Regions from separate parts of the Homo sapiens genome. Here region 1 is linked to region 2. Evidence: fine-mapped expression QTL. A gene starts in region 2. The other region holds a variant in brackets. All regions are shown on one strand. Distances are between the middles of the regions.

Region 1 (5,389 bases), 660 kb after region 2:
AAAAATTGATTCTCTCCTAGAGTCTCCAGAAGGAACATAGCCCTCTGACACCTTTATTTTGACCCAGTGTAAAAGTGAGACCTACCCCAAACTTCTAACCTGCAGAATTACAAGGTAATATATTTGTGTCATTTTAAACCACGAAATTTGCAGCAATTTATTTCAGCAGCAATAGTCAAGTAATACAATGTTTATTCCCCAGTGTTTAACTATACAGATTACTGGGTGCATCATACTCAGGACATGAACCGGTTTTATTAACTGGAAGAAAAACCTACGACATGGACTCTACAGGCACCTAATCATGTTGTACCCCTTTTCTTCACACAAATTAAATGTTGGAAGTCCTCTTGATAATCAAGACACACAAGTAACTTGGAAGATCCAATAATAGGTCATGTTTCAATTAGATGTGAAGTAAGTTGTTTGAAAGAAAAACAACTTAGTCTTGCCATGCACACCTTCCATAGCACTTACTTGCCTTTCATATGGAGAGATTGCACTGTTGTCCTAATATCTTGCCCCACCATCTGAAACATACCTAGTGATTGTTGTTTACTTGAAAGTTTGACCAGATGCAGTATCTAGTTGTTCAAGGGTGGAGCAAGACACAGGTAAGGATACTATTAAGAATAATACATACAAGCTTATTTGGTATAACCCAACAAAATAAATCTTTTTCTAAGAAAAGCTGATTAAAAATTGATCATATCAATTGCATTAGCCATTCCCAATGAAGAAAGTTTTAGATAGAATAAGTACATCAGAAATGCTGAGAATACAAGTAACTCAATCCCTATCTTCACAGCTATGTTATAGCTACTTGTACTACACCAAATGACAAACATAGACTTCACTAATATCATTTAAGTTTAAAGATATATGGGCAAAAACCTTGTTTGGGGCATCACCACCTCATTCCAATGCTTTCAAACAAATTGTTTGTTAGATTCTGAAAGGGTGGTGCAGACAGCTATCAAGTCTTGAATCAGATGTCTGGAGGATAGTAAATGACAAAACTTGCAAGATTTGTTCATTGCTTAGTAGGTCATTCCTACATTAAATGAGAAGTGTCAATCCTGCTTATTTCTTAAGAGCTATTCCAGGCTTAATAAAAAACTTACATCAGAAGTTATTCTTTGTGTTAGTCTATGTTCATTGTTTTTTCACTCATGTATTCCATAAGAGATTGTCTTTTCTTAGCAACTATGCCACTGAACCAGGGTGCATTAATTTTATAAATGATATCAGTGTCACTATTGCAAAAGGTTCAGAGGAAGGCTCAAACTGTGGCATCACCACGGTGACTCGCTGTGATGGAAGCACCCCAGGGGCAATGGACCACAGGAAAACCATTAGAAAGCTCTCCTCTGAGACATGTTGTTGTTTTTTACTCAGCCACTTAAGGAATGGTCAAGGCCACAAAGTCAAGGAAGCAATCACTCTTCTCTGACTATTACAAAGAATAAAATGGAGTCTCTGGGCTCTTCTACAACCATTTGCACTGACATAACCTTGAGAAAGGCTTCCCCATTTCTTACTGGAAAATTACTTTAGCAAGAGAGAAAAGGTCTTACAAGTGCCAAGGGGGCAGTAGTACATTACTAGCTTGTTTGCTCCCATTTTAAGTTTCTGTAGATTTTTTAAATGTTTCATCAGTTTGGACAGAAGTGAGGATGTAAATTTGGGGTTTGCAAAAAAGTGGCCTGAGGGACGGAAATGGGGACAAAGAGGGACAGGACAACTTCACCTAGATCAATTTTGTAGTAATAACAGATTTTATAGCAAAGACCTGTCATTTCTTGTTTCTTTGTAATTACCATTCAAAATAATAGAGACTAATTGTTAAACGTGATAACTAAAAAATAGGGAGATATTTATCAGAAGCCACTAACTTTTAAGAGATAACAAAGCTGTTAGAAAAAGCTTTTCCATTAAGTCTGGGAATTTGCTTTCATGCTGCTACTTCTGTGCTTTTAACTTCTGGAGTCAGTCTTACCAGTGGTTTTCTATTTCTTTCATATAATTGTATAATATATATCATATTATTCTATTATAAATATTAATATATTCTATTATATATACTTATTAATATATTGTATATGCCTATATATGTTATAAAATAAAACATATTTTATGGTTAACATTTGGAAACTAGTAAGGTTGACAGTACGCAGTTAATGCTAACCTAGCAACCTTCTGGGTACTAATATACTGTAAAGGAAAACCAATTTGCTAAGGCTATTAGCAAAGTAAAGCACATATTAGTCAATATTTTAAATAAGCTGCCTCCGGATGACTTCTCAATGACATGTCAGCCATGACGTCAACAGTAACCATGGTTTAGATTTATGTTATCACATACATAGGTTAGGGGAAATTGGTATTGAATCATTATCAAAAGTTAATGCCAGTAGGAACTGGTTGTATTTGACTTATTGCACGACTGCAGAATGTACCTCTAATCTTAGCTAGAAATTTTCTGAATTCATGTTACTGTTCAAAAAGATTTGAAATAAATAGGCCTAAATTACAAGTGTTATTGCAAACAGTAAAGAGTTCATAAATAGGATGTGAACTAAGTTAACTAGTTTTATATGTATACAAATATATATAAATAAATTATATATAAATGTATAAATAAATTATATATAAATGTATATATATAAATATGTACACATATTTAGAGGTTTAACTTTTCTTTTAAAATTCAATTACAGTGAAAAAAGCTTTTAGAAATAGCA[T/C]ATATTAGGAAATTGAAATGTTTTTTCTTCTGGTGCCTTTCCATATCTAAAGTCACTTTTTCCTTTTGCTTAGGAACAAAATAATATACTGTGTTTAATTTAGTTTGACCTATAAACTTATTGTTTTTCTTATTTTTGAAATAAAATACATGGAACTGTAAAAGTAAATAGGAAAATGTTCCAATTTCAGAGATGTGGGAAAAGGAAGAAAATATCTAGAAAGGTATCTTATTTTTACAGGGTAAACAAAACCTCACAACTTTTTATGTACTTACATATTTCTAAATGTGAAAATTTTCACAAATGTCACCTCTCCTTTGATTTGAGTACAATTATCCATGTAAACCCACACACTCATTTATCTTAAAATCCTTATTTCTAATTAAATTGCAAAAGGGTGTAAACATTCCAAACCAAGAGCAGGCTGTTCTCATTTATTATTGAAAGAACATGATGACCTCCTAATACATACATACACACAGAGGGACACATCACGACTCAGACCCAGGAAAATGTTGCAAGCCTTTGTTCAGTTACCACAAGCTAAGAGAGGGACAGTAAGCTACTCACAACCCCAAAAGGTTGTTATCCACCCAGTAAATTAAACCATGGGTTAGCCAACTTGTCCAGAAAGTATGATAGACTGTGATTAAGACCAACCCTTAGGCAAATTCTCCTTGCAATGGTTTTTTTCTGGCCTCAGAATCCTTTTCTGTGTATAGGAGAGGGAAGCATTATGAAGGAGAGCTGGTAGATCGAGCTGTTCACCATGGTCTCCCCTCCCCAGCTGGAAGCCAGATCTGGGCTAGAAGTCAAACTCAGGAGATCATAAATACACTCCACAGAAGTAGAGATCAGAGCACACAAAACAGTCCTGCCCTTTTCTTCACTAAGATCATTTAAATATATGTCTCCAGGCCCAAAGATAAGCTAAAAACCACTTGCCCAAAATGTGTGTGATAAACCACCTGGCAGAGTTTTATAGATCTTTGGAATAAGTTTGAGGCAGAATTCTGAATATGCAAAGATTAAGGCAATTATTATCTACAATGAGACTATGGCATGACTTGCCACATAGCCCAAAATTCTAGTCAGTTTAATTGAACCATTACTTATGGTTAATTTACTAGTCTTTGGATACAAGAATTTAAGAAGACATAGTTGAAGTCACATTATTAAATAATTGTTTCCCAAAATACATGTTCCTGAACTAATTGGAATAGACTAGAAATCATAGAAAATTCATGATCAACTCTATTAGGGGAAGAGTTTCTCATTCAGCCAGGTAACTATTTGTTCTTTTCCTGCAGTCATAGCACCTCTGCGTCACCCAATATGCTAGGTAGGATTTTCTCACTTAGTTGCCAGTTAGAGAAAAGCAAGGTAAATTAATATTAGAAAAAAAGTAAAAAGAAATAAGAATGAAGGGAGAGAAAAAAGAAGGAGGGAGAAAAACAAGGGAAAGTAATAGTAATACACTGGCTGAAATAACCAAAATGTGGAAAGGACAGCCTTAGGTGTGAGTGGCTCCAGAGGTTTCAACGATGCTACCTGGTATTTTTCCTTGTGCCACTTCTGACCAGCATTTCCAGAAAGCATGGAAGCCAGCCACCTGTAGCTTCAGATTTCTTCTTCTTTTTTTTTTTTTTTGGAGGTAAGAGTCTCGCTCTGTCGCCCAGGCTGGAGTGCAATGGTGCGATCTCGGCTCACTGCAACTTCCAAATCCTGGGTTCAGGTGATTCTCCTGCCTCAGCCTCTGGAGTAGCTGGGACTACAGGCGCCCGCCACCACACCTGGCTAATTTTTGTATTTTTAGGAGAGACTGGGTTTCATCATGTTGGTCAGGCTTGTCTTGAATGCCTGACCTCAAGCAATCCACCCACCTTGGCCACCCAAAGCGCTGGGATTACAGATGTGAGCCACCGTGCCCGGCCAGCTTCAGATTTCTATCCTCACCATCTTAGAAACCAAAATTATAAGCTCTGGTTAGAAAAATCACAGAAAAGAAAATCTGATTGTTTAGGTTTGTGATAGGTGTCTATGCTGGGATGAATCTCTGTGGCTAAGGAGAGAGAATTGCTAACAAGCAGTTAGCAATTCCCAGAGTGGGACCTGGAGAGGAGCAGGTCCCAGAGAAGAGGAGAGTGCTATGCCCCGAGGAAAAGGACACTGTGCAGACAAAACAGAAAATATCCACCCGATCTACTCAACATTTAAGGTTTATCGGACTCTGAAAAGAAAAAGAAAAAAAAGAAAAAACGGTAACTTTAGAGTTGAAAAGAATAATGGGAGTCTGTGATTCCAACTCTCCACCACTGTGTTCAATTCTGAGTACTATGTTTTAAAAGAGGCCTAGACAATTAAAGGGATGTGCAGAGCAGTGATGGCACTAGAAGGAACTGAAACTTATTACCTTACAAAAAGAGGACCAAAGACACAGTGGACTTCAATTATTTGAACAGTCTTTTCTGTAGGGAAAGATGCATATTTAGTCTGTGCTGCCCAATTCTAGGGCTCAGAAATGTAAATAATTGCCTATAGGATTCAGAAAGGTAACATAAGGGAGCTAACCAGATGTTGAAAAAATGATAGTACATGCATGATAATGAACGGCAAGTATTAGCCCTAGGATATGCAAATCTCTA
Region 2 (5,389 bases):
GAGGCCATTGGTGCTTAAATACAGGAAGGTGTATCTCAGGAGAAAAGTGAAGATTGGAGATAACAGCGCTTGCTGTTTTACAGTGTTTTAAAGAATAGAAATTTTCTGAGAATGAATAAATGCCATGTAGTCATGTAATGGACTAGTACACAGCAATACAATATTGAACTACATGGATAAATCTCACAGACATAATGATGAGTGAAAATATTAAGACACAAAAAAGCATATACTCTAAGATTCTATATTTATAAAATTCAAGAGCAAGTAACATTACTCTTTGGTGATGAAAGTCAGAAACATTTTCTGTGACCAGCAGGGGTGAGCGGAGATGATTGGCCCCTTTTGTTGATGGGGAACTAAAGACAAGAATGGTCCAAGCTTATCTCCAAATAAGAATATTATGAAGTTAAGTCTTGAATCCAGTTCTATTATTTCACTATATCATTATGCCTCTACACAAAGGTGATGATTGAGATGCATAACATTTTCCCCCATCTCCTCTAAATGTAAAACATCATGCATTAGAGATGGCCTGGTTTCCATGTACTTCAACCTTTACCCACATCTCTAGGTATTTAATTCCCTAAGAAAGGGCCATGTGACATTATTTCCATTTTTACAGGAATCAAGTACTCTGGAATAATATATTCTCTTTTAAAAAATTCTACTGTTTCTTTTGTTTGGTTTTGTTTAGAGAGGTCTAGAAAGACTTGAGATACCAACTACCAACTATGCCCAACTCAATATACATTTTAAGAAGACTAGATATTGACTTATTGGAAAATCAACCCTAAATGGTTTACTTGGGCTTTCTAACATGACTCAAGAATCTTCAGAAAATTAGAAAGAAAGATTTCAAAGTGACAGTAGATTATATGCTACTCAAAAGCAGGAGTAGTATTTTTCTGGCTGTGCTTAGCCTAATGCTTATGATACAGTAGGTACACAAACATTTGCTGAATTAATTACTGTGGTCCATAAAGCCCAGTGATTATCCATGGGTGCACCCTAGTGTACCATAACCATATAGTGGAAAGAGCAGTGGGCAAAGAAATCTTGTTCATGGTCTTAGCTCCATAGAAGATAGATCACTCTTTAATGGGTCTCAATTTCCTTATCTGTTAAGTGAGAGATTGGATGAATACATGATCAGGTACTTACATGCCATTTCTCACATTCTAGTATCAAGGGTGTGTTCCTGACATCCACTATAATTATTCAATGGCAAATAACCTTGCATAAGTAAGTTTAATACTAGATTTTTGTTTATGCTAGGGATAACAGAATGAAAGAGATATCATGGGGTTTTTGTCTCACTCAGTATCTCTTAGGGGAGCAATGACGATCAGGATGAGTTTTCAAAAGTCGTTAGCTGGTACATCTTTTTTACAGTAGTTTACAGTAGTTTGCAATGCTGCATGGTAAGATAACTTGGGGTTAATTCCCAGATAAGTTACATATAAAAACTCAACTAATAAAGTGTCTTTGTTCTTCTTTTCTTTGCATATGTGGTAAATGATCTTTCACTACTTAAACATTACCTTAAATATGGCTTATTTTCTCTATTCAATTAGATAAACTTTGTAAAATATATGGCAAAAGCTTTTTTGTCTTTTAAAGAACATATTTTCACATATGCCAATAAACTGACACCAGGTAGAATGAAAATGTAATTGTTTCTTAAGTAGGGGTCCTCTTTTAGAACAGTAGTGCATTAAATTTCTAGAGTGAGAACTACAAATAACACAGTCTTCACAGCACCTAGTATTGAAGTTAGCATTGACCCAATAACAATGGAGGGACACACTTTTGAAATAAGTTATTGGTTATCATGTGAGAGAAAGTTCAGTTAAATGTCAGATTTCAGAATACACAATGTCACTTTTCTACCACTGTTTATTGCATATTGTCATCATTTTTAAAAGGCAACATTGTTGAGCACTACTGGGAACAGATCTTACATGGGTTTTGGTGGTGGTGGTGGTGGTGTTATTCTTCAGAATACTTACGCAGGGTGCTGAACATCTTCCCTGTTGTACTCTTGACTGGATTGGGATTGACTTAGCTCATACCCAAGGATATTCTTTTATTACTTTTCCATCTGTTAAGAATGCTTAGGAACTTTGGTTTTTCTCACAATTTCTTTCCAGCTTTGTCCTATTTACTAGATTGTCTAAAATTAAAGTTTCAAGATTTATTTGAGCTAACCCTACTTTTTTTCTATCAGCTATAATATTCCCCAAATCATCTTTTTATTGGTTACTACAGATAAAATTTGTGATAGAAATGAAATGAAGCAGAGAGAAGTTGCGAGTAAAAGTTTCGATCTCCTGCTTAACTGTGCACCTTACTCTGTTGTGCATATCTATCCATCCATCTAAACCAGTATAACAAATATTTTCTTTAAATATTTTGCAAAGTTAGTGCTAAGTAAAAATATGCACATGTGCATTCCCAGCTCCCGTTTATCCTATGTACAAATCCAACTAGTGGGGGACGGGGCGGGGTGGAAGCAAGATTCGGACAAGCTATAATACATCCACAAAACCACTGGGGGAATTTTCATCTCCCCTCACCGCGCAGCTTTGCAGAAGCGCCCTTTAAGGTGTATGTCTGTGTGTGCCTCTCTCAAGCCTTCTGGATGATGATGCGAGAGGGAAGATTTTACATTGCAAAGATCAATGTATTAAAAATGCCGTGCAGGTAGTTCATAGCCAAGAGCCTTGCTCGTGTTGGAGGATGCAACGGAGGAGAGAGGCAGGAGCACCGGCAGCCAGCTGGGGGCTGACCTGATTCCCTAGAATCCTCAGCTCCCTTCCTCTTTCCTTTCGACGTCCTTCCTTCCCTTTTTCTCCTCTCCCCCCTCCCCCGCTTTCCCTTCTCCAGATAAGCAGCTCCGGGAAACAAAGAATCCGGGGCTCTCCAGACATCAGAGCTTAAACCCAGGACTCTGCAAGCGGCATCTCATTCCGGGGTCCAGGGCTCTCCCGGCTCTCCATCCCCTCCCTAACCTCCCCCGCCTCCCGCGCTCGCTCCCTCGCTCCCTCCCCGCTCGCTTCCTCCCCCACCATCGCAGCGCTAGGAGGAAGGCGGCCGGGGCTCAAGATGGCTTTAGCCGGGCTCTGCGCCCTGCTCGCCTGCTGCTGGGGGCCGGCGGCGGTGCTGGCCACGGCCGCCGGCGACGTGGATCCATCCAAGGAGCTGGAGTGCAAGCTCAAAAGCATCACGGTGTCGGCACTGCCCTTCCTGCGCGAGAACGACCTGAGCATCATGCACAGCCCCTCGGCCTCGGAGCCCAAGCTCCTCTTCTCGGTGCGCAACGACTTCCCGGGAGAAATGGTCGTGGTGGACGACCTGGAGAACACGGAGCTGCCCTACTTCGTGCTGGGTGAGTCCCGGGGGAGGTCGAGGCGGCCGGAGGCGCTGGACCGGCGCCCCCACCCCCCACTCCAGCTCGCTCTACACACCCACTCGCCGACGACCTCCCCTCCCCCACTCCTACCTCCCGGATCCGCCCCACTCCCGGACCATTCTCCACACCCACTTGCATACTAGCGCCTCTGTGCACCTGACTTCTCCCCAAATCCGACCTGGATGCTGAGCCTCCTCTCAGCTGCCCTGCCTCAAAGAAACAGGTTGCATGAGTCTCTCTGAAACCTCTCCCAGCCTTGACCTCCCAGCTTTGATTCAGGAGCACATCCACACAGCACTTTTTGTCTGCTACCAGTTCAACTCCCATAATCCCTTCTCCCCACTCCCTAGCCACATGCTCAGCTCTTTGCTTCACTCACTCTGGATACCCACACCCACCTACAGCACTTCCTGGGGGCTTTAGAAACAGGTATCCTGTCATCACCTTGCCAGCTATGTGCAAGCCAGATTCTAGTCTTCATTCATGGAGAGCCCTTTATCTGTCACCAGGCTACTGACACCCTCCCTTCCAAACACTCAAGTTTCTTATCCCCCAGCTGTTCATTCTGGGAAGTCCTACCTCCATGCTTAGATGTCACAACCCCCTAATTCAACCACATCCACACATCCATGTCACGTCACAGTTGGTTAAAGATATTATACAACTGTAGTCTGTTAGTATTGGTCTCTTCTTTGTTCCCAGGGCCACCTTAGATAGGCGTAGGCATTCCTGCACACAGAATGACCTTTCTAGGCAAGGGGCTCTTCCTTCCTTTGTTTGTTTACATCTCTCTCTTTTTGGTACTCCCACTGTAATTTTCTTAGGTCACCTTCAGGTAGTGGAACTCCTGTCACTTCAGGTACTGGAACCCATACATTACTTCAAATCATCCCTGTTTTCCACTACTAAGCTGCAAAGGTTTTGTGGTCCTGCTCTAGTATCTTGCAAAGCACCACAAGTTCATGTTACTTTGCCAAATTCCCCTCACTTCTCCATGTGTAGATGGAGCTCTCACCTTGCTGTGCATGCCTACCATGCAATCCATTTCTTTAGTGATGTTGCCAATTATTCTTATTTTGCCCAGGAGAAATTCAAAGAAAACCACACTTCAGTCTCTAGATCCAAGTAGAGAAAAAAAGAAAATGTCTAGGAGGCTGTTCCATTTACTTGATACCCTACCAACTACAGTTCCATTTGCAGAAACATGGTTTCCTGATGGCCACATGTAGGCTAGAGCCACATGTGGAATTCTAACACATCCCTCTTGCTCTTCCTTCATAGGAGATGTCTTCACACTGAAAACACTAGGAAGTGAGTGAATAAACCCCTACTCCCCAACCCTTAGGGAAAAGCAATTTCAAAAATTGCCTGGCCCTTTGAAAAGTTGCTTTATAGTTCCCGGAGTGCAGCTCAGTTGAACCCATTAAACCCAACCTATGCTCTTGATAGGATTATTTATTTTTGCTTTCAAAAATACCAATAACATAATAAAAACTGGGGACTAGCTGGAAATGGGAGCATTGTGGATATGCCGCTCATCAAAATGTACAATTACTGGGTTATTTGGAGGATGGAAAGTTCACGTTGAAGTCATGCTGATATGCAAAGTACAATCTGTTCATCATAGTATATAAAAGTGAGTAGAGGGAATTATGTGTTTCTAAAGAGGCTGTTTTGCACTCTGCTTGTAGTGTTTACTGTGCATGAAGAGGTACAAGCATGGTGCTTAAAAAAAGGGAGGGCTAGCAGGTATTCAACATTTCATTTCTTTTTTGCAGAATCCCAAAACCAGGGCCTAATGCTGTGATGTGCCTACTAGGAACCAATGTGCACAGTGAAAGCCCAGATGTTATAAGAACGGGTTTTCTGCACCTCTGTGCAAAGCTGCCCACTGCAGTGTCCTGTTGGGGTTGCTATGGTAATCTGGTGCAACTTGGCATTTACACACAGGCACACAGACACACTCTCTCACTT

Direction of the effects. Positions count from the first base shown, and alleles are read on the strand shown. Sizes are in standard deviations (SD) of each study's normalised expression.
As copies of T replace C in region 1, the expression in skin of the gene that starts at base 3,073 in region 2 goes up (large effect, 1.0 SD a copy in TwinsUK).

Evidence for each region. PIP is the estimated chance that this variant, and not a neighbour inherited with it, causes the effect. A credible set is the group of variants that fine-mapping cannot tell apart.
Region 1: its variant is the best candidate, but not a certain one, in a credible set for the expression of ASTN1 in skin (TwinsUK, PIP 0.63).

The regions. Positions count from the first base shown.
Region 1 is chr1:176,497,757-176,503,145 of GRCh38, reverse strand. All of the region lies in intron 1 of PAPPA2 (pappalysin 2), which reads right to left. Among named protein-coding and RNA genes, the nearest start is that of PAPPA2, 37 kb to the right of the region's middle. The variant T/C (reference allele first, on the strand shown) is at 2,745.
Region 2 is chr1:177,162,396-177,167,784 of GRCh38, reverse strand. It overlaps ASTN1 (astrotactin 1), which reads left to right and starts at 3,073. Exons shown (of 23, transcript NM_004319.3): 1 at 3,073-3,391. The coding sequence starts at 3,109.